Linked DNA regions of Homo sapiens: region 1 is linked to region 2. The links come from fine-mapping of genetic effects on gene expression. A gene starts in region 2. The other region holds a variant in brackets. All regions are shown on one strand. Distances are between the middles of the regions. Region 1 overlaps TSPAN2 (tetraspanin 2). Region 2 holds the start of TSHB (thyroid stimulating hormone subunit beta).

What was found. PIP is the estimated chance that this variant, and not a neighbour inherited with it, causes the effect. A credible set is the group of variants that fine-mapping cannot tell apart.
Region 1: its variant is the best candidate, but not a certain one, in a credible set for the expression of TSHB in cerebellar hemisphere (GTEx, PIP 0.82).

What each region holds. Positions count from the first base shown.
Region 1 is chr1:115,075,877-115,088,776 of GRCh38, forward strand. The region is part of intron 1 of TSPAN2 (tetraspanin 2); the gene reads right to left. Among named protein-coding and RNA genes, the nearest start is that of TSPAN2, 7.2 kb to the right of the region's middle. The variant G/A (reference allele first, on the strand shown) is at 7,788.
Region 2 is chr1:115,023,837-115,036,736 of GRCh38, forward strand. It overlaps TSHB (thyroid stimulating hormone subunit beta), which reads left to right and starts at 5,990. Exons shown (of 3, transcript NM_000549.5): 1 at 5,990-6,024; 2 at 9,526-9,688; 3 at 10,137-10,466. The coding sequence starts at 9,527. The coding sequence ends at 10,391.

The DNA of each region.
Region 1 (12,900 bases), 52 kb after region 2:
CTTCTTCTGCCCCCAGCCACATCTCCCTTCCCTGTCTTTCTTCCTTGCATGTTTATTAAGAATAAACTACAGTCCAGGCCAGGTACTGTGCTCAGTGTCAGGGAAACGATGATGAAAAAGACATGGTTCATAGTCTAATGTGGTAGATAGTCACATAAAGTACTAAGTGCACTATAATGCAGGAAGTGTGCTGAAGAGGAACAGCATGCACACTGCCAAGGGATTGGAGCAAACTGTAGCCACTGGCATGCAGGAGGAATCATTAAATTTTAATTTACATCTTGAAGAATGAGTGAGAAGTCACTGGGCAAGGAACGACTGGCAGCAGAGGCGAATTCCAGGCAGAGATGGTAGTACAGAGGTTCATTTCCTTACCTCGATGCTGTGTTTGTTAAGGAGAGTCTGGGGGAGGTCGGAGGTTGGGGCTTGAGAGGGTGTGGGACAGACCATGACTCGGCTTCTACTTTGTTTGCTACCATCTTGGAAAGCCCATAGCAAGGTCTGCCTGAGGGGAGGAGGGACAGAAGCCCACACTTTGATGGAAACCATCAGGAGCATGAATGTTACCTGGAGGTCAGACATAGCAGGGAGCCAAAGGGAAAGGCTTGAATGGCTGAGGACCAGGGACAGGACACCAGGGGAGTGGACGTGGAGAGCTGTGAGAACTACGAACTCACTGTACTCATTGAAGAACTTTGCTGAGGGCTGCCCTGCTTCCAGGACCAGCGCCAATCCCTGTGCCTTTGGAACAATTACAACTAGAAACATTGTTGTTTTTCTGGAAATGGACTTTTTCATACAGAAGCAAAAGTTGGACTTTGATGTTAATCCTTTAAAATACACTTATTGAGCAACTACTATGAGTCAGAAGCCAAGGTTTCAGAGATGAGGAAAGTCCAGTCCTTCTTCTGGGGCTCAAGGAGACGCTAATCCCCACTGGGTGGCCCAGGAGGGAATCCAACCCTGCAGGTGGGAAGTCAATCCAGAGGCAGCCCACCAGAATGCACATGAGAAATTGCCAGAAAGCACCATTTTTTGAGTCCTCCCTCCCTTTTTTTTTTTTTGACAAGGTCTCACTCTGTCACCCAGGCTGGAGTACAGTGGTGCCATCACAGCTCACTGCAGCCTCAACTTCCCGGGCTCTAGCGATCCACCACCTCAGCCCTCCAAGTAGCTGGGAATACAGGCACACACCATCACACTAGCTAATTTTTGTATTTTTTGTAGAGATGGGGTTTTACCATGTTGCCTAAGCTAGTCTCGAACTCCTGGACTCAAGTGATCTGCTCACCTCAGCCTCTCAAAGTACTAGGATTACAAGTATGAGCCACCGTGCCCAGCCTCATCATTCCTTTTCTGAGGACCGGTTGTATGTGAGGTACTCAGAGAATGTGATAAAATAGTATTTAAGGGCAAGAGTGTGCCAACTGTTAAAAAGAGGACAAGAAAAATACTTAAAAAAAAAAAAAGAAGATAAGAATGCAGGGAAAGGAATAGATAGTGACAATAATTCCAAGTCATTAAATAGGGGATCATCACATATGGTTATAGTACGTATTGTCTTGGGCAAGTTCTTTCAGTAGCTAACCATATTCCAGAGAGTTTGGAGGACACGAAATTGCAAATTGTAAGCATATGTCTTTAGTGAAAACAATGTGTGTTCTAAAACTCAAGAAACAGAAGAAGGACTGAAAACTTGATTAGAAAGCATTTAAAGCAAAGTGGATGGACAAAAAGTTTTCTTTAATAATGGCTATCTGCCAAAAAAAAGTCATCGTGCATGAAGCAGAGCTTGCTAATAGATTTCAATTTTATTTTACTGTACTTACTTCCATTTCCTGGGATTGCTGATGAGATGTCCTATCTTGAGGACATATTTTTTCATTTTAAAAAAAGACAGGTTTCACAAATTGCAAACATGGTCCCTAGGCAGGCGCTGCGGTTGGAGTGGGGTGGTGCTGAGATGCAAGAATGCAGAGATCATTCCTCATTCTGGCCTCCCCAGTCTGCCCAGCTGTCCTCCTTTTCCTGGAGGTTAGCCAACCAGATCACCAAGAGCAAATACCTGCTATCCACTTTCTAGTGACTAAGTCCAGCAAAAAAGCCCCCTTTGGGGGTAAAAAGCATCATTTAGGGAAGTTCTAGACAGCATGTGCACTGATACCTAAGTGGGAAACACAGGTCCTGGCCCTCAGATGCTCCAGCTACAGTTTCAGATCCTTCCTGCCCCTGTGGAGGTCTCTGTTCTTGCTGTTCCCTCCTCCGCCTCCCCCTAGCTGACACCCATTCACAGCTCTAACATTAATTCCTCAGGGAAGCCTACCATGACCTAGATAGGTACCTTCTTTTATATCTCACATAATGTTTTCTACTTAAATATGCCCATATTTTGTAAATTAAGGCCTAAGCTCTGTGAGGGCAGGGACAGGGTCTATATTGCTGTTTCCCAAACATAATCCCCTCTGCCCTGCAGAGTGGGCTCCCAATAGACATTTGCTAAATGAGTGAATGGAGGACCTTCACAAAGATGCTATAGACTGAATTGTATCCCTCCAACCTGCAAAATTCACAGGTTGAGGCCTAATTCCCAGTGTGAGGATATGTGGGGTTGGGGCTTTGGGAGGTAACTAGGTTTAAATGAGGTCATGAGGGTGGGGCCATCATGAGGGACTAGTGCCCTTATAAGAAGAGACACCAGAGAGCTTGCTTTCTGTCTCTCCACCATATGAAGACATGGCAAGAAGGTAGCTGTCCACAAGCCCTCACCAGGGAGCCCTCACCAGAATCCAACCTGACTTCCAACCTCCAGCACCTGACCTCTGACTTCTAGTCTCCAGAACTGTGAAAAATAAATTTCTGCTTCAGCCACCCCACTCTGTGGTATTATATTTTTAAAATGTCAGCTTGAGCTGATTAAGACAGGCTGACAGGAGCAATTGCGAACAACCTCCTTCACAAGTCTCCAAGGGAATACTTCACAAAGTGCTATTTTCAAACTCATCTGCACCTGGGAAACACTGCAGATACCTTCGAAGGCACTGTGTGAACACGCTGTTGAATATGCTCAGCAAAACACATGCCTCAGAAACAGAAAACAAAAGTAGAGCACATAGTATCAGTTCTGTGTTTTCCTAAGCCTGCAGGAATGTGTGTTGTGTACCATCCACGGATACAAAGAATAAATCTACACAATGTAAATCTACACAATGTATACATGCCTTCCACTGGCAGGGGCATATGAACACAATACAATTATAGCGCCACACACACACACACACACACACACACACACGCGCATGCTGCACTCAAATGAAAGAATGAACAAAATCAATTCTGTATTCTTGCTTCTCCAGGGTGAATACCAACTCATTTGCAATTCTCTTCTTTGGGATGAAGTCACAAAATTGGAAATGATGCTTCAACCCTAGAATTTTCATTAAATGCTTTTAAGCTAATACTTGCTCTTGGTGGCAATTCTCATCCCCATTGGAATCACATAATGAGCACTTATGATTATTGATCTGATTGTAAACCCCATTATGATACCTTAAGGGTAATGGAGTCTCACCCTCTTAGCAGGCAAAAGTCAGAAGCACATTTGCTCTGGAAGATGATCTGAATTTTCTCAAAGAGGAAAACCAGCTCCCAAGATTTTTATTCTGTTATGCAGTAAAAGCAAGTCAAGGATTCAGATGGCATTTCTTCAAAATCAAGGGTTTTATCAGAAAAAATACAAGAATTGAATGCCATATGACATCTATGTCAAATGGTCTCCGAAGGACCTCACTACCTTGGCCTTCATCAGGACCAGGTGAGTGGGAACTGAGAGGCAGGACTGTGGCAGCCTGTGGCGATGAGAAGGCTGTGTTAGTCTGGAAATGCATGGCAGCTCCTTTAGGTACCAGTGTTTCTGATCTCCCCATTATTTTCCTCATGCCATTTCCTAAGAAAAAGCTCACAGTAAGAAAAACTTCCTTCAGGTAAGAGTATATTTTATAATTGACCAATGCTTAATTCTCTGCAGTGATGGAAGGGTGGTGCAATTCAGGCCACAATAAAATCAGGAGTGTTCCATTCATCTCTGCAAAGAACACTGGGCTATACATTTGTGCCAGATGCACCTTCAGTTTGTTTAAATTGTTATAAAGTTAACTTGCATGGGTCAACCAACATTGCTGGGGGCAGTTTAGAAGTGCTGGAGAAATATAAGCTCAGGGGAAGGAAACTAACTTGGGATGAAAAGCTTGCTGCAAATGATAGAGCAGATAATTTACATATAGACAGTGGAAAATGTGTTGTTTATTTGGTGATTATACATAATGTCTTTTCTCTTAACAATACAGGGAGAAGGAGAAGGAGATTAGGGAACATCAAGAATTAGGAGAAAGACGATGGCTGTGTAGTTTTCTTGCTTTTTATTTTTTTGAGATAGGGTCTTACTCTGTTGCCCAGGCTGGAGTGCAGTGGCCTGATCACAGCTCACTGCAGTCTTGACCTCCCAGGCTCAATCCATCCTCCCACCTCCTCCTCCCACTACAAGCATGTGCAACCACATCCAGCTATTTTTTTCTATTTTTTGGTAGAGATGGGGCCTTACTTTGTTGTCCAGACTGGTCTTGAACTCCCGGGCACAAGTGATCCTCTTGCCTCAGCCTCCCAAAGTGCTGGGATTACAGGTGTGAGCCACCATGCCCAGCCTATGTAGTCTTCTTTATACTATACAGCAAAATGAAATGTCATAGACTACTGGCTAAGGATTCCAGGGAGCAGATGGCTTTCTCAAATGAAGATCAAATATGTACAGAACTAAAATCTGGTCTACCAAGTCACAGAAGTGAACTGAACTCAATGTCTGCCTTACTTACCTCATCAAGGGGATAAGCCCGGAGAGGAAAAAAATGGTCTTTTCTAGGTTCAGCGGACCTCCTCCTTGGAACATCCAGCTGGCTCTCATCCTAGGCCTGCCCTCTGCATATATAATCACTTATCTTGGAGGCCACAATGACTACTGTGACATCTCATCTATATAGAGCTTTACATAAGCAAAGACAACACATTAAACAATATTTATTTATAGTGGTTGGGAGAACTACTTTGGAGCAGATAAACAATTCTTAATTATTGATCAATAAATAATGATCTTCATCCAGTTTTAGTTGTTACAGAATGACAGTGGTTAAAAAAATGTTTCAAATGGAACTAAGGCTAGATTAGAAAAGCCAAAACAATTTGTTTACTAAGAAGTTAGCATGGGTGGAATCTAGCAGAAATTGTGAAAGTCTAGCTTGGTGCTCTATAGAGATTTTTCTTAAAAGCCATTTTACCAGGACCTGTTTGAGGTCAGGAAGGTGCAGCACTGGTCCATTCACAGAAGGCTAGATAGACTCTGGCGGGAGCAGGGAGACAAAGTCGGCTTCCTGGATGAGTGACAGCAACTTCCAATGCACCCCTGGCCCTGCTCAGCCTTGCTCTGCCACCCCTGTTAATAAGCTGACTCTTTCCCAATCACCATTACGATGTGGAGGACAGAGCTTGGTACACATCCTGGAATATCTGCCAACTGTTCTTCTAGAAATTCACCTCTTCTGGGTGTTCAGAATATATAATGATGCCCTTAGGGTAATAAACACATGCGTGCATACGGTACGTAGGTGTAAAGGAGTTGTAGTGGATAAAAATGGGGGTTCTACGCATTTGGGTTTGAATCAGACTCTGGCACTTACTGGTCCTATAATCTTGGGCAAGCCACTTAACCTCTCTAACCCCAGCTTCCTCATCTGCAAAGTGAAGGTAATAATAGTGCCTCCTAAAGAGACTAAATGAGTTCATGTTACACACTGAGAACAGTAAGTGCCTCACACTTTGTGCTATTATGTTGGTAGACTTGCTAATGTTACCTTCAAACCAAAAGCTTAATCTTCAAGATAGGAAACATCGCTCCCATGGTTCCAATAATGTGGTTTGCTGCAGCCGTCCTCTACTAATTTTTATTTTAGATCCACACTCCCTCTTTCCATGACAGCTGGAATTCCTTTCGGTTTTCTAAATCTTCTATACTAGAAAGTCAGTAGCCTTTTGTGGAAACTATGTCTCCTCTCTTTAATGTTTTTAAGACCCCATAAGAGAAAAATATGAATAGATATATTTATGAGTGAAAGAATAACTATATTTAGGCTAGGGCTGTCAAGAAGACCTTTCTCCAATGATGTAAATGTCCTATATCTCTGCTGTCCAGCGTTGTGGCCACTAGGCACCTATGGCTATGGAGCTCTGAAATGTAGCTAGTGGGACTGAGAAAATGAAGGTTACATTTTATTTAGTTTTAATTAATTTAAATAGCTACATGTGATCAGTAGCATAGTCGCCGCATTGGACAGTGCAGGTCTAGAATTCACAAGTTTGTCAGAGCTTCAACCTTCCTCTCCGATAGTCTGTAGACTTGGAGTGGTTATGAGTACAGACTCTGGGGACACACATAGAGACACAGCTCTGCCACTGGCCAGCTCTCAAGTCTCTTCAATGCTTCAGACCTCTGTTTTCTCATATGTAAACTGGGGATGATAACTGCTACTATTTCATAGGGTTGTTGTGAGGATTAAATTAGTTAATAAATGCTTAGGAAAGCAGCTGGCACATAGTGTACATTTATATAGTGCTTACTATTCTTCAAGTTTTTGCTCCTGAAATTAACTTTTTAAACTGTCTCTTGATATATACCCTTTCTCAATTTCCATGTTACTTTTCCTCTGCCTGAAACTGATCAGCAGTGTTCCCAACCTCTCTCCTTCCTGCTTCTTCTCCCATATGCCTTAGTATTTTTAGGCATCTCTTTGTACCTGTTTCTGGAATGCATCAAGACTAAATCTGACACTGAATATAATCTCCCTGATCACAGGCTTCAGATTTTCCAAGTTAGCAGCATTTCTTATACCTTATATTCTACACGTTCCAATAAATTAAAACAATGAAAAAAGCATGGGGTTTAAAGTCAGAAGACCTGGGACATACCACCTACTGTGCCTGACTTTCAGCTTTCACAACTGTAAAATGGGAATAATTACACTATTTCGTGAGATTGTTGTGATTCATGATCAGGTGGGATAACGCATATGAAAGCACTTCGTAAACTGAAGCATTGTTATTTTTGTTCCCAATCAAATTCAAAGAGGATGAAAAAGGCAGGCCAAGGTAACCCGAGTTAATTCATCTGTAAGATGTGCTCCCAGCCCATCTGGTATTTCCATCTTGCTGGCAGCATTCTCTCTTTAATTCCTTAGCAACCATGACATGATTTGTTTCAGTGCTCAGTATAGCATCACTTGTTTTAAGGGAGCAGCTTCGCGATATTAACTGTCAAGGTTGGGGGATAGAGGTTACGTTCTCTTTTGTCACACATGGTTGGAGACCCAAAGACACTTCATGGCTGATGTTCTAGAACAACAAGGTGAAATGCAATGAACAATGGACAGGTGGCCTCCCGGTAATTCCAGAAAGCATCAAGTATTAGCGTAAAAAAGAGACTTAATAAAGGTAAAGTGGTAACTGAAATTAAAAGAACTGCCAAAAACAAGCCAAGTGAGTAAGCCAAGAAGCAGGGCACACCCTGCTTCAGTCAGAAACAAGTGCCACTGCTGAATCTCTGACCTCTTCAGGCCACATCTAAAACAGGGGTTCTCAAAGCATGTTCCCAGACCAGCAACACGAGCATCACCTGGGAGCTTGTTAGAAATGCAGACCCACTGAATCCGAATAAAGCTGAATAAGCTCCCTATGTGATCTGTACGCAC[G/A]TTAAAGTTTGAGAGGCACTGATCACCAAAGGTTTTCCCATTGCTTTTCCTTGGCCTCCACTTAGTAGCACAGAAGTGGGAAAGGAAATAAACAGATCCTGCTCCAGGGTCAGTGCACACAACTACCTTAGCTGGAGCCATGCTTAACTCTATTAGGTACTGAGGGATTGGGAGAAAGGGGATGCCAAAAGGACACAGTCCCTGCCCTCAAGGAGCAAAGACTAAACAGGGAATAAATTCTAATCAAAGGCAAAATGGAGGCTAAATAAAGGCATGAGTGCCTCAAGATCAAGGGCTGTGTCTTAATCATCTTTGAATTCCCAGCACTTGGCAGGGAACGGTGGAGGAAGTGATCTCTCCTTTTGACTCCATGCCCTTGATAAACTCCAAGCCTCTTGCTACCTTGCTTGCTTAGCTGGATGTAAAACACCTGCCTGCTTTGTTGTGACTTTATGAACCTCTTGGATTCTAGATTCTACTTTCCCATTTGTACTTCTAGTATTTAAAAACAACTATTACTGATATGTTATTATTTACTGTATGCATGAACCATACTTATAACCTTACATATATTAACTCATTTTATGTGCACAAAGTTCACAGATATTAGTAGTTTATTATGTCCATTATACAGATGAGAAAATGGAGGCTCAAAGAGGTTAAACAACTTGCCCAAAGTCCCCTAGGTAGTAAAGAGTGGAGGCAGGAATAGAGTCAGGCAGTATGATGTCAGTATCCACTGCCCAGGTTTTGGATTCCTGGATTTGAACTGCCACGCTGCATAGGTCTGTCCGAGGTCTACCGGAACCCTGGCACCATAGCTGTGGCTTCTTCAGACTGTCCCCTCTTGTAGGCTATCTGTTCCTCCTAGCAATTCTAGGTCCACACTAGGGGACACTGGCCCCTGGTACTCTCTTTCCACCTTGACAAAAATCAGAAATGAAGATTCTCCTCCAGCGAGGCTGAGAACATTCCTATCTGCCTTATGGGCTGGTCTCCAAAGAATACTTTCTTTAGGTATTTTTTCCTAAACCAATGTCTCTGACAGGTGATTGCTCTGAAGTTACTGTTTGAAATAAGTTTGGGAAAGAGTGGAAGGTGACCTCTATGAGATTCATGTGAGTCAAACTTCTTTGACTCCCAAGCCTGCAAGACACTGTCTTTCTTAAATGTACCTGTTAGGCATCCCCAAGTGAAAACCCAAAGCTGTATTAATAATGGTGAGAAGGAAAGGAGGGCAACTTCAGACTTGCCATATATGGAATCTGCTTTTCAACAATGAACAGCTCTGCTTCCTGTGGGTCAGTAACGCTGAGCAGCTAGTGCAGCACAATGATAGGAAAACACTGACCATACAACAATAAACCAAGGAATAAACAGCGCCCAGGTTTTCCTTTAAGCCAACATATGCGGCTTGGTGGGGGTGTAGTGTTTTATTTATATTGCTATGCAACGTAGGAAAAAAAAAGGTGATTTCAATGAAAGGCACAGGAATATGCTGTGCTATCTGATCGCAGGTCTGAATTTAGACATGACAGATGTTGGGAGGGGTTTCACATTTGACATCAACCACGATAAGAGAAATTAATGTAGTGGGGTTAATGGCTAGGCTTTATTTTGTTTTTAAAAATTCAGTGGTGAGTACAGTCAGCGGCCCTGGGCCAGGGAATACTGTGCTGGCTCTGGCAGGGCCTGGTTGTATGTTTATGAAACCAGGAGCACAGCCTAGGGAAACTTAAAGCAAGCTGCCAGAGGAGGCTGCAAATTGATCTGTTAAATCGCAGATCACCAAACAGAACCTGTCCCACCTCTATGCTTACTTCTGGCGAGGTTCTGATTGGAAGGAAGTGCTGTCACCCAAGGAACCCCGTAACTCCGAGGGGCAGGCACATGAGCTTCTAAGGGTGTGTGTAAATTTATACTTCAGTCACAGCTAAAGTCTGGCCTTCTAGGAAAACTATCCCCCACCCCTTTCCCAAACTTCCCACGAAGCCCTCCAACCACAAAAAAACAACTTTAGAAACTTGAGTGGGGCTTTTCTGGAATCAGGTTCCCTCAGTTACAGTGAAGGCAGATATCTAGATACTTTATCCCACACTTTCCCTTAAGTCATGAGGTGCCTGTTTCAGTTGCCTCTTCGCTCTAGTTGCTGCCTCCACCCCCACCCCCCATGAAACTGGGGGAGAGGAAGGTCCTTCATGTCCTACTGCATGCCTTCTATATGCTAGGCACTATTCTAGCACTGGGGATACAGCTATGAGCAAAACAGAAAAAACAAAATTCCTGCTCTCAGAGTGTTTTAAGTTCTAGTGGGGAAAATCCACAAGTACAAATTGACAAGATAAGGTGTAGTTATCCTCAAATGAAGACAAATGGCAAGTCACTTGGCAAACTTATATACTATTCCCCACCAAGAAAGGAATCAGGAGAAAGAGAGCTAACATTTATTGAATGCTTCCTATGTGCCGATAACAAAAATAATAATTAATATTTTTGAGCATTTACTATGTCCTAGGCTCATAGGAAGTTGAGGTCACATACTTTATATATTCCCTCTTAATCCTCTCAATATTTCTGTTACTCCAATAGCACAGATGAGAAAACAAGCCTAGAAGTAACAATAACTTGCTCAAGTACACCCTGTTTGTGCAGGCACGCCCTGCTTGGGATCTCTGCACTCCAGCCTGATGGCTTCGACAGTCAGATGGTGGCGCACACTCCCCCTTGCTCTGCTCCTCTGCTGGTGGATGGTGCGTCACCCCCTCGCTTTGCCCAGCTCCATTCTACCAGTCCTTCCAGGTTTAGCTCGAATAGCTCCTTCTTAAGGAGAACTTTTCTGGCTCCTCATCATGACTGTGATCCTTTCTCTAAACTCCTTACTTAGATCACATATAGAGAAGGTCGGATCTAACCTCACTGGTTAACACATTCAAGCACTTAAAACTGCACTGCTCCTACTTCCTTTCCTTACTGTGCTTACGGTCAACAGTGTGAAACTTGTCACTTGATTCCACACTGTCTTATTTTTGTGTTGTTCCATATCCACTGGTCTCGTTTCCTCAATGAGATGAGCAGCTTAGGGAACTGTGTTTATATTTATAAATTATTATTTGTTTAATCATTGTTTAACAGAATGGGTCTCAAATTTGAGCATGGATCAGAATTATGTGAATGGCTTGTTAAATTAGATTGCTGGATCCTACCCCCAGAGTTTCTGATTCAGCAAGTCTGGGATGAGCTGAGAATTTTGTTTGTTTGTTTGTTTGTTTTTGAGATGGAGTTTCGCTCTTGTTGCCCAGGCTGGAGTGCAATGTGGCACCATCTCAGCTCACTGCAACCTCTGCCTCCCGGGTTCAAGAGATTCTTCTGCTTCAGCCTCCCAAGTAGCTGGGATTACAGGCACCCACCACCATGCCCGGCTAATTTTTGTACTTTAGTAGAGATGAGGTTTCATCATGTTGGCCAGGCTGGTCTCGAACTCCTGACCTCAGGTGATCCGCCTGCCTTGGCCTCCTAAAGTGCTGGGATTACAGGCATGAGCCACTGTGCCCGGCCTGAGAATTTGTATTTCTGACAAATTCCCAGGATATGCTGATGCTGCTGGCCCAGGAACCACTTTTGAGAACCACTGGTTAATTGAATGTACCACAGTGCTTAAGAGAAGGTAGGCGGCCAGGCGCGGTGGCTCACGCCTGTAATCTCAGCACTTTGGGAGGCTGAGGCAGGCAGATCATGAGGTCAGAAGATGGAGACCATCCTGGCTAACACGGTAAAATCCCGTCTGTACTAAAAATACAAAAAAACTAGCCAGACGTGGCGGAGGGTGCTTGTAGTCCCAGCTATTTGGGCGGCTGAGGCAGGAGAATGGCGTGCATCTGGGAGGTGGAGCTTGCAGTGAGTGGAGATCGGGCCACTGCACTCCAGCCTGGGCTACAGAGTGAGACTCCGTCTCAAAAAAAAAAAAAAAAAAAGAGAAGGTAGGCTGAGTTTGAATACCATCCCTGCCACTCACTAGCTGTGTGATCTTAGGTGACTTAACCAATTTGAGCCTGTTTCCTCATCTGTAAAAAATGGGGATAATAATAGTATATGTATATCAGGACTCTTGTGAGGATTATGTGTAATAATGAAAGTAATATGCTTAGCACTGTCCCTGACACATTGAAAACATTCAATGAATCCTTCCAGCTATCACTGGAAAGGCTGGTACAATATCAGCCACTAAATAAGCACTGAACCCAGCTTAAGAATTCCTCCTCAGGCTTAAAACTTCATAAGGCTTTGAATTCATAAGCAGTGAGAATGAAGGTTGTCACTGTGGCGTGACATCTATAATTAACAGCTTCTGAAATTAAGCCAGATTCCTAAAAAATACAACATAAAGGGTCTTCAGAAACGCCTCTCCCTATAGTATGCTTGATGTAAATCCCCACGTGTACAAAGGCCATGTGTCTCTTTAAAGTTCAGGGGATGTCGAGGAGGTACCTCCTTCACACCTTCCACTGCTGAAGGATACTGAAGAGCTTGGAGTTGCTGAAGTCACCCAGGCATCTGGGCTAATGGATTGACAGACAAAAGAGGAGCCCATCATTCAATAATTAATTAGTTGCAATCATGGGAAGACAACGTCCCCCAGAGCAGATAGGACAGCCACCTCCTCCAACCTGGTAGTTTCAAAGCACCCAGGCCCTGGCTGCTCTCAAACCTCTTTATCCAATGTTTCCCCTCAGGGTCTAGCTGAGCAGTTACACTGGCTGACATTCTCTTAAGAAAGCCCAAGAGGAAATGTGCAGAAAAGACAATTTTCAGACCTTGTCTCACAGTCCTGCAGGCCCTGGGACAGGGTATCCAGGGATGTAGGTCTGGTCTAGCTGTATCCCTGTCTCGATAATATAGGAGACAAGGGTCAAGATCCTATCTCTCTGTGAACCATGAATCCTGGGAACGCTGTCAGTTCAATCAAACCCTGCAAAGTTGAATGAGATCATCTCTGGGAGAATTAGTATTTAGCAGAGGCTGCGGCTGGGGGTTGTGGAGAGCTGCTGCTGCCCTTTAGAAGCCCTTCCATTCCCCATCCCCTTCTCAGAAGAGAACCCACCACCTCCTCTCACCC
Region 2 (12,900 bases):
AAAAAGCATGGAAAGGAATTAAGTAAACAAACAGGTTTTGTTTCATGTTGCAGGCCATTTTAATATGACTGTTACTGATAACTCAGGCTTAAGATGGCTAAACTGATTATTTTAAAAGTGTCTATATTGCCCAGGATTTTAGAATTTTATGGATATAGAGAATAGTAGGAGCTAGAAAAGTACCCAATCTTTGGGGTAAAGGATAATGTCAGTAAATCTGATTCATATTTTAATGCCACTTCTCTGTTTAGCTAAGTAAAGAGTACGAGTGTTTGTTTTTCTTTGAAAATGAGTTAAAATTTTAATGCAACAAAAACGATGTCAAGAAACTTGGATTTTAGCCTGACTTTGCCTATAACTATCTATAGAACATCAGAGCATTAAATAACCTCTCCATGGATGCAAAATGTCAGAATAGGATCTATGTTTCCATTTATTTATGTAATCAATATTTACTGAGTACCTAATATATAGCAGAGGCTGGTTTGGATTCTGAAGATATGGTGATGAGCAAGACAAACAAAGCTTCCATTTAAATTGCTTACAGTCTGGTTGGAAAGGGGGAGACAGAGAATAAGTATATAAACAAATAATATAGTATCAGAAAATGCTAAGTGCAATGAAGAATATATGAGATAACAGGATAAAAAGTGACAGTGGCAGTAGGCTGCATTAGACTGGGTGGTCAAGGAAGGGTTTTCTAAAGAAGTAATTTTTAAGCTGAGATGATAAGGAGAAAGCCATTCAAAGACTTGTTGAAAGGTTGCTCCATAATGAACAAATAGCAAATGTAAAAGCACTGTTCCAAGAACAAGTTTGGAATGTTCTAAGGGACATAATAAATAAAAGGTGGAGAGAGGTGGGTATGACATGAAGTTAGACAAGTAGGCACAGATGATTTCCACCTACCATATTTTTTATCAGTTTTATTGAGGTATAATTGACATACAATAAATTGCATATATTAGTTTCCTGGGACTGCCATAACAAAGTACCATAAACTGAGTGGTTTAAAACAACAGAGATTTATTTTCTTACAGTTTTAGAGGCCAGAAGTCCAAGATCAAAGTGTCTGCAGGACCATGTTCCCTCTGAAGCTGCTGAGCTAGGATGTATTCCAGGCCTCTATTGCAGCTTCTGGTAGTCCTTGGTTTGAAGCAACATAATTTCATTCTTCACATGGCATTCTCCTTGTTCATGTGTCTGTGTCCAAGTGTCCTCTTTTTGGAAGGGGATATATCCAATCATATTGGCTAGTGGCCTACTTTACTCCAGTATTATTTCATATTAATTAATTTCATTTGTAATGAACTTATTTCCAAATAAGTTCACATTCTGATATACTACAGGTTAGAACTTCAACATTTGAATTTTGGGGGTACATAATTCAACCCCTAACCCTGCATATATTTTGGTAGGTTTTAACATATGTATATCCTGTAAAACCATCATCACAATCAAGATAATGAACACATTTTTCACCTCCTAAATATTTCCTCTGCCCCTTGGAAATCCCTCTTTCTTCCCCTTCCTTGCCTTTCCTCATCCCCAGGCAATCATTAGTCTGCTGTCTTACACTAATTTGTATTTTCTGGTATTTTATATAAACTGAATTATATGGCATGTACTCTGTTTTGGTCTGTCTTAATAACATTAAGATTATAACATAATTATTGATGTTCATGTCACTGCTGTGTCAGTAGTTTATTCCTATTTACTGCTGACACATATTCTACTGCATATATATGACATATTTGTTTATCACCTGTGGATGGACATTCAGGTTGTTTCCAGTTTGGGGCTATTAAAAATAAAGATGCTATAAATGTTTATGTACAAGTTCATGTATGGATATATCTTATTATTTCTCTTAGATAAATACTGAGGAGTGGAATGATTGGGTCATATTGTAGGTGTATGTTTAACTTTTTGAGAGACTTATGGACTGACGAACTTGTACCATTTTATGTTTCCATCAAACATTGTATACAAATTTCGATTGCTCCACATCCTTGCTAACCCTTGGTATTTCCAATTTTTAAATTTTAGGCAGCCCAAGACGTGTGTAGTGCTGTCATTGAGGTCTTAATTTCTTATCTCTGAGACTAATGATGAAAATTTTTCATCTGTTTACTTCCCATCTACATAATTTTGTGAAATGTCTATTCAAACATTTGCTTATTTAAAAAATTGGATAATTTTTTTCTTATAATTGAGTATAGCAGGTTCTTCATATATTCTGTATACAAGTTCTTTATCTTATATATAATTTGCAAGTTTCTTTTCTTTCAGTTTGTGGTATGTCGTTCTTTTAACAATGCCTTTCGAAGAGAGAAGTTCTTAATTCTGATGGAGTCCAATTTATCATTTTTTGAAAATGGATCATGCTGTTGGTGTTATATCTAAGAAAGTTTTGCCTAATTCAAGTTTTGCCTAACAAAAGTTTTTTTTTTTTTTTTTGGGACGGAGTCTCGCTCTGTCGCCCAGGCTGGAGTGCAGTGGCGGGATCTCAGCTCACTGCAAGCTCCGCCTCCCGGGTTCACGCCATTCTCCTGCCTCAGCCTCCCAAGTAGCTGAGACTACAGGCGCCCGCCACTACGCCCAGCTAATTTTTTGTATTTTTAGTAGAGACGGGGTTTCACCGTTTTAGCCGGGATGGTCTCGATCTCCTGACCTCGTGATCCGCCCGCCTCGGCCTCCCAAAGTGCTGGGATTACAGGCGTGAGCCACCTCGCCCGGCCCTAACAAAAGTTTTATTCCATGCTTTCTTCTAGAAATGTTAGAATTTTAGTTTTTATATTTCATGTTAATATTTGTATATAATGCAAGATATGTATTGAAGTTATTTATTTATTTTTAAAAAGTATTTATTTTTATATATGGATAACGAATTGTTCCAGCACCATTTGTTGAAAATACTATTTATTTTCTACTCAATTTTGTTTTCACCTTTCTTGAAAATAATTTGACCACATGTGTACAGGTTTATTACTGGACCATATTTTGTTCCAATGATCTGTCTTAACACCACTTTCTTAATTACCATAGGTTTACCATCTTGAAATCAGCGATTCAGTAAGATTTTCAACATAGATGGTCATGTCGTATGTGAATAAAATTTTACTCCTTCCTTTCCCATCTGAATGTCTTTTTTCCTTTGGCTTATTGCGTTAACATTGCACTTACAGCACAGTGTTTAATAGAAGATGCAAAAGCAGACGTTTTTGCCTTTTTCCTGATCTTAGAGTAAACGTACTCTGTCTTTCAATATTAAGCATGATATTAATCATAAATTTTCCATGATGCCTTTTATTAAGTTAGGAGGTTTTCTTCTATTCCAAGTTTGCCGAAAATTTTTTCAGGAATCTATGTTGGATTTTGTAAAATGCTTTTTGTGTATGTGGTTGTGTGTGTGTGTGTGTTTCCATTGGGATCATCATAAGGCTTTTAGTTTTTAGCCCGTTAGTAGGGTGAATTTTCTTAATTGAATGCAAACTAAACTCGCATTCCTGAAATAAATTCCACTTCGACCATGATGTATTATTCTTTTTACATATTGTTTATTTTGTTTTGTTAAATTTTGTGAAGAATTTTTGCATCTATGTTCATTTCATGAGGGTTATTAGTTTGTGGTTTTCTTTTTTGATAATGTCTTTCTTGTGAACTCTAGCTGCCTTGGGGATCCATGGACTCCCAGGTCTATCTCTTCAATTTGGTGATGCTTCTGGCCTCTGCCTTGGTAACTTTTCATGCACTATGGCACAGAAACTTTCTCCAGGCAGTCTCTCCCTGTTTGTTTCCCATCTCTCTCGGATCATGTACTTTTGTTACCTGATGTCCAATATGTATAAAGACATTATTTTATATATTTTGTACTGTTTTATAATTATTTTAGGTGAGAAAGTAAACCTGGATCAGAAGCACAAATTCAACATGCCTGGATTCTTTTAACAGTATGAGATCATATACACTAAGGCCTCTTTAGCAAGAAAATCACTACCCAAATGCATGGTATTTATTATAGTTCTTTTAGTAACAGGCCAAGTGTCTATCAGTTGTCCATTACATATGTACACACACACATACATACATATATCTCCCAGGGATAGGTATATAAATCCGCTAGAAAATGAGTTCCTGAATCAATGCTTTATACAAAGGAGGCACTAATTCCATTAGAAACACACATCCAACATTCTTCCATTTATCATATTCCTGTGTTAGCATCTTGTCTGAAATTAGGTTGGCACACTCATTTCCAGTTTCCCTGTTTTCAAAATTATCTTACTACATAGTAGCTCACATTCCCAAGACCTTGGACCCTGGCATGGCCATTTCTAGGTATATATCTGTTAAACTAAATGTGGCCTGAGGATACCTCTGTTTTGTGAGTTCCTACATAATGAACTGCAACCTAACTTAGTATGTACACTACCTGAAAGCCTAACTTAGGAGTATACTTTTGTAACAGACAGCTGAATTTCAGCTCATCACAGCAGCTGAGCTTCAGTCAATTACAGGCAGCCAGCTGATCAGACTTTGTCCAAGTAAGGCAAGTGCTGATGTATAATGAAATCAAGCTGTTTCGATATCTCATTTCTACTTTCTGTCCATAAATGCTGTCTGCCCACATTGAGGAGCAGAGCTCTGTGAATCTCTTCTGATTCTGAGGGCTGCCTGATTTGACAATCATTCTTTTTTCAATTAAACTGACAAAAACAAGCAATGGGGAAAAGATTCCCTGTACAATAAATGGTGCTGAGATAACTGGCTAGCCATATGCAGAAGACTGAAACTGGATCCCTTCCCTACACCATATAGAAAAATCAACTCAACGTGGATTAAAGACTTACATGTAAAACCTAAAACTGTAAAAACCCTCGAGGATAACCTAGGAAATATCATTCCAGATGTAGGACCGGGCAGAGATTTCATGACGAAGACGACAAATGGAGTTTCAACAAGAACAAAAGTTGACAAATGGGACCTTTAACTAAAGGGCTTCTGCATTATGGCCCAGAAACTTTCTCCAGGCAGTTTCTCCCTGTTTGTTTCCCATCTCTCTAGGATCGTGTACTTTTGTTACCTGATGTAACAGGAAAAGAAACTATCAACATAATAAACACACAACCTACAGAATGGGAGAAAATATTTGCAAACTATGCATCTGACAAAGGTCTAATATCCAGAATCTATAAGGAGCTTAAACAATTTATAAGCAAAAACTGAAGAACCCCGTTAAAAAGTGGGCAAAAGACATAAACAGACACTTTTCAAAAGAAGATATATACATGGCCAATAAGCATATGAAAAAATGCTCACACCACAAATCATTAGAGAAGTGATATTACCTTTTAATAGAAACTGAAGAGGTCAAGCATGCCAATGTCATATGGCAAGTAAATGGCAGGGCCAAAATTTTATCTCAGGTCAGCTTGACATCCTGTCAGATGTGGCCATGTTCCTCAGAGTCATTCTTTCACATGTGTAAATTTTACTTAATATCTTAAAATCCCCCAAAAATATTTTGAACTACACATTTTGTTCTAAACAAAATTTTTAGATGAGGAATAATTTTATATATCTTTACATGAACATTTAGGTAAAACTTGAAGCCCTCAAGCCCCAAATAAATTTTTATTCCCAAGACTTATTTAGATGATGTTAGAGTGTTTTTTGAATTTGGTTTTTCCCATTCTGTATCTATCTTTTATTAATATTAATAAATAAATATTAATAAAGAATATATTTAAAAGGTAATTTTATTTTGAAACAGAAGAGAGGAAAATGCATGCTTTAATAATGTCAGTTTCCAGGTAAAGATATTGTGAGCTTGTTTGTCTAAATACATTTTATTTGGAATTCAGTATGAATTTTCAATAGATGCTTTTCAGATAAGAAAGCAGTAAATCAAATGCAATTGTATAAACAAGAAGATCAGAGGGATTATCCTGAAGGGTATAAAATGAACCAAGAGCTTTTAGTTTGGGTCACCACAGCATCTGCTCACCAATGCAAAGTAAGGTAGGTGTCTATAGTGAGAAGGCTCTGTGAAATGATATGTTCTTAAGCTATTTTTTTTCACTTTCACCATTTTATCATTTTTTAGAAAGTGGCAAATGCTGAAAGATAATTTGCTTCAACAGGCTGTAATATCTTAAATTACTGCTCCAAATTGTTTAGTAGTAGATGGAGGTGAGAGAACTACCTACATAAGGATAAGGAAAAAATTCATTGACTTAAAGAAAGAGAAACAACTGATTAGTTCCCTAATGAAGGATATTTGATATTCATGGCTTTCTTCTGTTTTCATTTTGATTTAAATATTGTTGTCCATTTAATGATGTGTGTATTAAATCCTCTCAATTACTGTACTAATGGCCATCTTTTATGAAAATGTACTTCCGGGAATGTTAGAGCAAATTCATTTTTGAGTACCTGCTGGGGTAATGTACTCTGTATTATAAGTTCTTTTTAGTTATTTAATAGCTAAACCTCCTTTGATAGTGTTCAACACACACACAGCTGCTGTATAGTACATTTTGCTTTCTAGAAAAATATACTGCTTTAGTGAAGTTCCAGGATTATTCATAGGATGGGCAATTAGTTCTTTTCATAGTAAGGGATTTGGAGAGTAAAAATTAATGAAGGAAATTAGCAGAGCAGAGAGGAAAGTGTTTATTAAGAATGAAGCATTGGGAGCAAAAATAAGAGAAAAAAAGAGAGGAAAGAGGCAAAGGAAAGAACATATCTTGGAATAAGAAAATACGTTCAAAGTAGGGACATATATGTCCATGCATCTGAAGAAGGCATCTCATTATTTAGGCCCTGCCTGAAACCATGCCTTCTATGTTTAGGTACCCAACAAATTATTCATGGTGATTTCAGAATAAGCAATTAAGTGGCAAAGATGAGAACCCAGATGACAATGAGGAAGAAATTGTGGCATATCACAGAGGAAGGGATTAACTAACGCGGATTTGTACAGTGTTATACAGCTATGTGATCTTTCTTATATAGAGAGCCAAGTGTTTCACATGTATTGTTTTATTCTTTTTATGATTTTAGGAAGGGACATATGGAAAAATGAAGGCACAAAGATATTAAATTGCTCAGTTGCACACAATTACAATTAAATCCTTAAGTAGAATTTAGATCACTAACTCTTAATCAATCAATCAGATCTGACACTAATTTATCATATAGAATTACAGACTATTTGTGCTGCGAAGATTTTCATGATCATCTTCTGGCTCTAAGCCCTGCTTTTATAGGTGAGAAAGTTGAGGCCCAGAAAGATTCTGTGGGTGAAGTTTTACTATTCGCAATAAAGAAGTAAAGGAAAAGAAAAGTTCTTGCTTTCTTTATGCCCACAAAGTTGTACAGATACTGTGGCTGGTAATTCAGCACTTCCATTTTCTACTTTTGTTAGTTTAGAGTTCTACATTTATAGGAGAAACTTCAAAAAAATATAGAGTATCCATAGTTAGTATGACAATAGGAAAACCAAAACAAATTTTCATCCTACATTTTAAAAAGGGTCAGGTGTACTTGTCACTTTCTATTTTGCAGATGGGGAAATAACACTCAAACAGATTATATATTTTAGTCAAGTTCTCATAGATTTATGGAAGAATTCTGTTTCTTAATTTTTAGACCAATATTTTCATCACCAGGTCACCACATTGATTTTATACAGAATTATAGAGCTAAAAGTTAAAATATGTGAAGTTAGTTGTTTCCTATAGAAAAAACTCAGTAGCTGGCTGTCTAAACAAGCAAGAACTATAATGGCCATGATGGGTAAGCATTTTACATAATTTACCAGTTAGTAATTTTAAGATCCTACAGAGGATCATCAAGTTCTGTATCTCTAAAATACTGGAAGCAACTCTGTACCATAGAGGGAGCTCACATTTGAGAAGCGCTTGAGAAAGCCAGATTCCATGAGTAAGGAATTTGTATGTTTTTGCTCCTTAACTCAAATACCAAACAAACCTTCCGTGGAATGTTTGAATATGCAACATTTCATTTAAAAGAATTTGTGAGAAAAACCCCTGTTATTTTAACCTTTAAAAGTTAAGTCTTCCTAAAATGGGTTAGTTTACTTTCTTGTGTAATAAGAAGTATAGTAAACATAAATCTTTGATAATTGTAGGTCTTAAAGTCTTAATTTGGACTCTTTCAGAGCACTAGAACAATCTGCGTTTTTATTATTTGTGTTCATATTAGCTCCTCCACTGGACAGTCAGCCCTTTAGGTAAAGGACCGTAGCTTTTCCGTTTGTGTTTGTCAGTGCCTGGTTCAGATGCTCAATATATGTTTATCTAATTTATCTACAATTCTCATTCTAGGAATAGAAGGTTGATTGAAATGACCACTGATCTCTGGAATTTGACATTTAAAATAAATCCCTGGTAACCTGTGTAATGTGGTTTTCATGGTTTCTTATAAGTTGATTGAAAAAAAAATCCTGGTTAACCAAGGCCGAACCTATGAGGTTTCAGTTTACAGAGGTTTTAGTGTATATAGCTTAAAGATGCTGTTGGGATATAACTGACAGATTTGGGGAAATCTTGGTACTTCTGATTATTGAACAAAATATTTAGTAAATTATATTTTATTTAATAGAACAAGCAAACAAGTTTATGTTCATAGACCACAATACTACTCCATTAAGGTATATATTTTCTTTACTGACAATGATACTTGAGAAGGAAAAAAATCCAAACACATCTAGCTAGCTGTACAATATTTGTAAGATTAAAAAAATTCTTCTTAATCTTCAAGGTGATCAACTTACATTCAAAAGTCTGAAATTTAATTACCCTTCCTCAGTAGTAGACCTAAAATAATTATGTCATAACATTATCCAGAGGGATAATGATATCAATATCAATATCATATCAATATCATATTGATATGATATATCCAATATGATATCATATCCAATATAACTATATCCAATCAATACATATTGATAATGATATCCAATTGATATTGAACAAGTTCTTCATCACGCAGGCTCTATTGAGATGCATGTTCTGTTTCTGCCTGAGGCACTGTGGATCCTCTATTTTCTTCCATGCATCCAAAAATTATTTAATATTCCTGGCTAACCCATAATGGAGCTGTCATCCTTGATTGTATTCTTCTAATTGTGTCAACCTTTTTTTTTTTTTTGCCTGTTAATCTTTTTGAGAACAAATTACATACCTGTTCTGTGTAAAATAATCTTTAATTTGTCCCAGCTGTACATATTTCCACCTTAAAGGGATATCCTAAGGGTTTGGAAGTGGGATCAGGGGGTTCCTAGATTTCTGAGTTAGCCCCTTAACACCAGTTGTAATTTCAGTTGACCTTTTTTGGACTTTATCTTTCTGGTGTCTTCCTTGACCAAATGGTAGAATTATAAGCATGATCATATGCATTGGGATGGTACTGAAGTTTGGTTATACTTTTTCTTGGTTTCTTTGCCCTTTCTGATTTTAACAAATAGGTTCTTTAATTTTATCTTTGATTTAGCATGACTGCTCTCTTTCTGATGTCCATGCTTTTTGGCCTTACATGTGGGCAAGCGATGTCTTTTTGTATTCCAACTGAGTATACAATGCACATCGAAAGGAGAGAGTGTGCTTATTGCCTAACCATCAACACCACCATCTGTGCTGGATATTGTATGACACGGGTATGTAGTTCATGTCACTTCTTTTGGCTGTAAATTATATAAGCCCTGAAGAAGTCCATTCCTATATAGAAAGGAAATGAAATAAATCACAACCTCATTTCCCAAATCTAATGGTTATTGGCTCCTTAGAAGCAGAGTACACAGGTTACAATATTATGTGAATCTACTCAGCACAATGGATACGCATAATTTTATAACAGTTTTGTGTCCCAGCTTTACTTAAACCTTATCTTGTTCCCATGATCAACGATGAAAGAGAGGAGGGTCTCACTTTTGTCTCTGTAGAATTCAACGTGGTTAAGTTGGTATTGGAGAATGGGGCTAAGCAATTCTTTCCCAGTTGTATTTGTGATGAAGGAATATAAGTGAATTTATTTTTATGTTTCTATTATCTATATGTTTCCTAAAGTCCTGTCACATTATGCTCTCTTTTCTGTTCTTTCCCCAGGATATCAATGGCAAACTGTTTCTTCCCAAATATGCTCTGTCCCAGGATGTTTGCACATATAGAGACTTCATCTACAGGACTGTAGAAATACCAGGATGCCCACTCCATGTTGCTCCCTATTTTTCCTATCCTGTTGCTTTAAGCTGTAAGTGTGGCAAGTGCAATACTGACTATAGTGACTGCATACATGAAGCCATCAAGACAAACTACTGTACCAAACCTCAGAAGTCTTATCTGGTAGGATTTTCTGTCTAATAGTGATATAATTTGCAATTTGGTTAAATGTGCTTGCCTGAAATAAAGCTAATAAAAATATTATGTTTCACATTATCTTCTGTTCATTTTGAGTACTATTTAATCCATACCCATACCTACACAGGCGTTAGAGAGCTTAAGTGGTTTTAGAAGAAAAGGTGAATGAATGGACCTTTTGGGCTCAGTTGAAGGTTGGTTTTCACGTGAAAGAGCAGAGTGGTGGTAAAATGGAGAACAGGGATATGAAATGCCAAAAAGCTCACCTTGAACAGTCTCTCCTAACAGAGGGCCAGGAGGTTTCTATGATATAGAAAGTGAATGTGGGATGACTACAGAGTTATGAAGAGAGAGTAATGTGATCAAAAGCTGAAGGAACACATGGTGTCAGGATACTGGAGACATCTACTTCCAAAGGCTAGAAGCAGGGCTGGCATGGAGGTGGGGAGTAAGGAGCATGTGGAATCTACAGTGGAGTGCTTTATTCCTGGTCATTCAAATGCACTGGATAAAACTCCACCCAAACTCAGAAGAGTCTAGGAACTATTTTCTTTAATTAATTACTCTGGTGCACCAAGTGACCTATGAAAGTTATACCCCAAAAAGTCAGTTTACAAAGCCTAGAAAAGAGGCCACGATCATTTTACATGTGGAAGTCTAAATCCTTTGTAGGCCTTCAAGTAATAGGAGATGCTTTTCAGCATTTATACCAAAAGTAACTGGTGCTGTTTTGACTTTTAATGTAATGAAAAACTGGTATGACAATAAAAGGTTTTAGGGATGGGGGAGAGTGCAAAGGGATTTGAGAGAGTGGAATTATTCTAAATTCTAATCTAAACCTTCATCAATATTGAAACACTGTTTTCTGGTAAATGTGCTTGGTAAGCAGCTGTTTATTTTTATTCTCCTTCCTTAGACACTCTTTCATGAGAATTTGGTTTCAACAGATGATTGACGTGAGACAGACCCAGTGCCCTGTAGACTTGATCTCAAAAAGTTGATATATCCTCTCTTTGTCCATTCCTTTTCATTCACACTGCCCCACCAAGGTGAAAAACAGTTGTCAGCAGGGCCAGTTGCCTTTGCTGTATTCTATAGCCACCAGTTAAATTCAGCTAGGCATACTGTAAATGTCTGTATGCTGATTGATAGTGCATGGGGTGGGCTGAGGAGGGTGGTGGTGGTAGTGGTGGGGTCCTGTAGATGGATTAGTACAACAGGGAGGGAATAGATGTGTATTTACATACAAAAGTCAGAACTCACATTATTTTACTTTAATATCTGAAATTGGTATTTGTGTGGTCTCCACATATTAATCTAGGGTTTTGTGTTCTCATATCAGCTGATAACATGGACATTTAAAGCTGCATACCACTTAAACTGTATGTCAAATACAGATCTTTAATAAATAAAAAGTCTAATGTTCAAATCTAACAGGGACTAGTCACAAATGCCTTCATGGATTCTGAAAAAGTTTTCTCAAGGATTTGAACTGTCTGAGTCTAAGTGCAATAAAAATTCTTTTATAAAGTTAACTTCCACTCTACTGTTCACTGTTGGGTTCTTCCCTACTTGCTTATCTCTCCTGGTTAATCCCCACTTATAAGACAACTCTATCTCACTTTCTCTACTTCTGCTACCCTCCTTCTACCTGCCGTTTCTGCCTGCTTAGCATCCATGTCTCTTCTTCTGGTAGCTGCACCTTGATTTCCCTCTGGGGTTCTCTTCACCTACAGTTTGAGTTCAAGTGGTTTCAGTGGGGATGATGAGGGTGGGTATGCTACTAGGCTCAACCAAACCTGGACTATTAGAAAGAGAAGTGGTTGGCCTGTTGGAGTTCCTAAACTGATAAAATGTGAGCCTGGAGTTGCTGCTGGCCATCTTTGGCATCCCTTGGAAACAGCTAGCTGTCCAACCCAGTGGAGAGCAAGAGAGACTGAGGAGAGAGAGGCCTATTGATATCATTTGAGCCTAATCTGAAGCTGGCTTCACCCCTTAAAAGAAACCATAACTTCCCTTTTCTGCCCAGTTAGAGTTAGGTTTCTGACACTTGCAACTGAGAAGTTCTGATAGATTCAGCTCTTTCCCACTAGTTTCAGAAGATGCTCCTAATTCCATTCCTCATCTCCCCTAGGACTTCATTGTTTGCTGTCGTATTTTCTCTTGCTTCCTTTTTCTTGATTCCTTCTTTTCAGTATGAAGCATCCTTAAATCTCTTTCCATCATAAAAAAAGCAAAAGCAAAAAAACAACCCTCTCTTGATCCTCTGCAACCATCTAGTTATTTGCCCCCTCTCTCCTTGAGTTCTTATTTCGAGTTTTGTGTGTGTGTGTGTGTGAAAGAGCCCACTACACTAACCAACTACTTCCTCACTTCTCGTTCTCTTCACAATCATTACAATTTGGCTTCCACTATTGTCCCCTCTTGAAATTGTTTTCAGTAAGGTCAACAATGACTTGCTAATGGGCCAATATACAGGACAACTGTTAGTCCCAATCTGCCCTGACCTCCC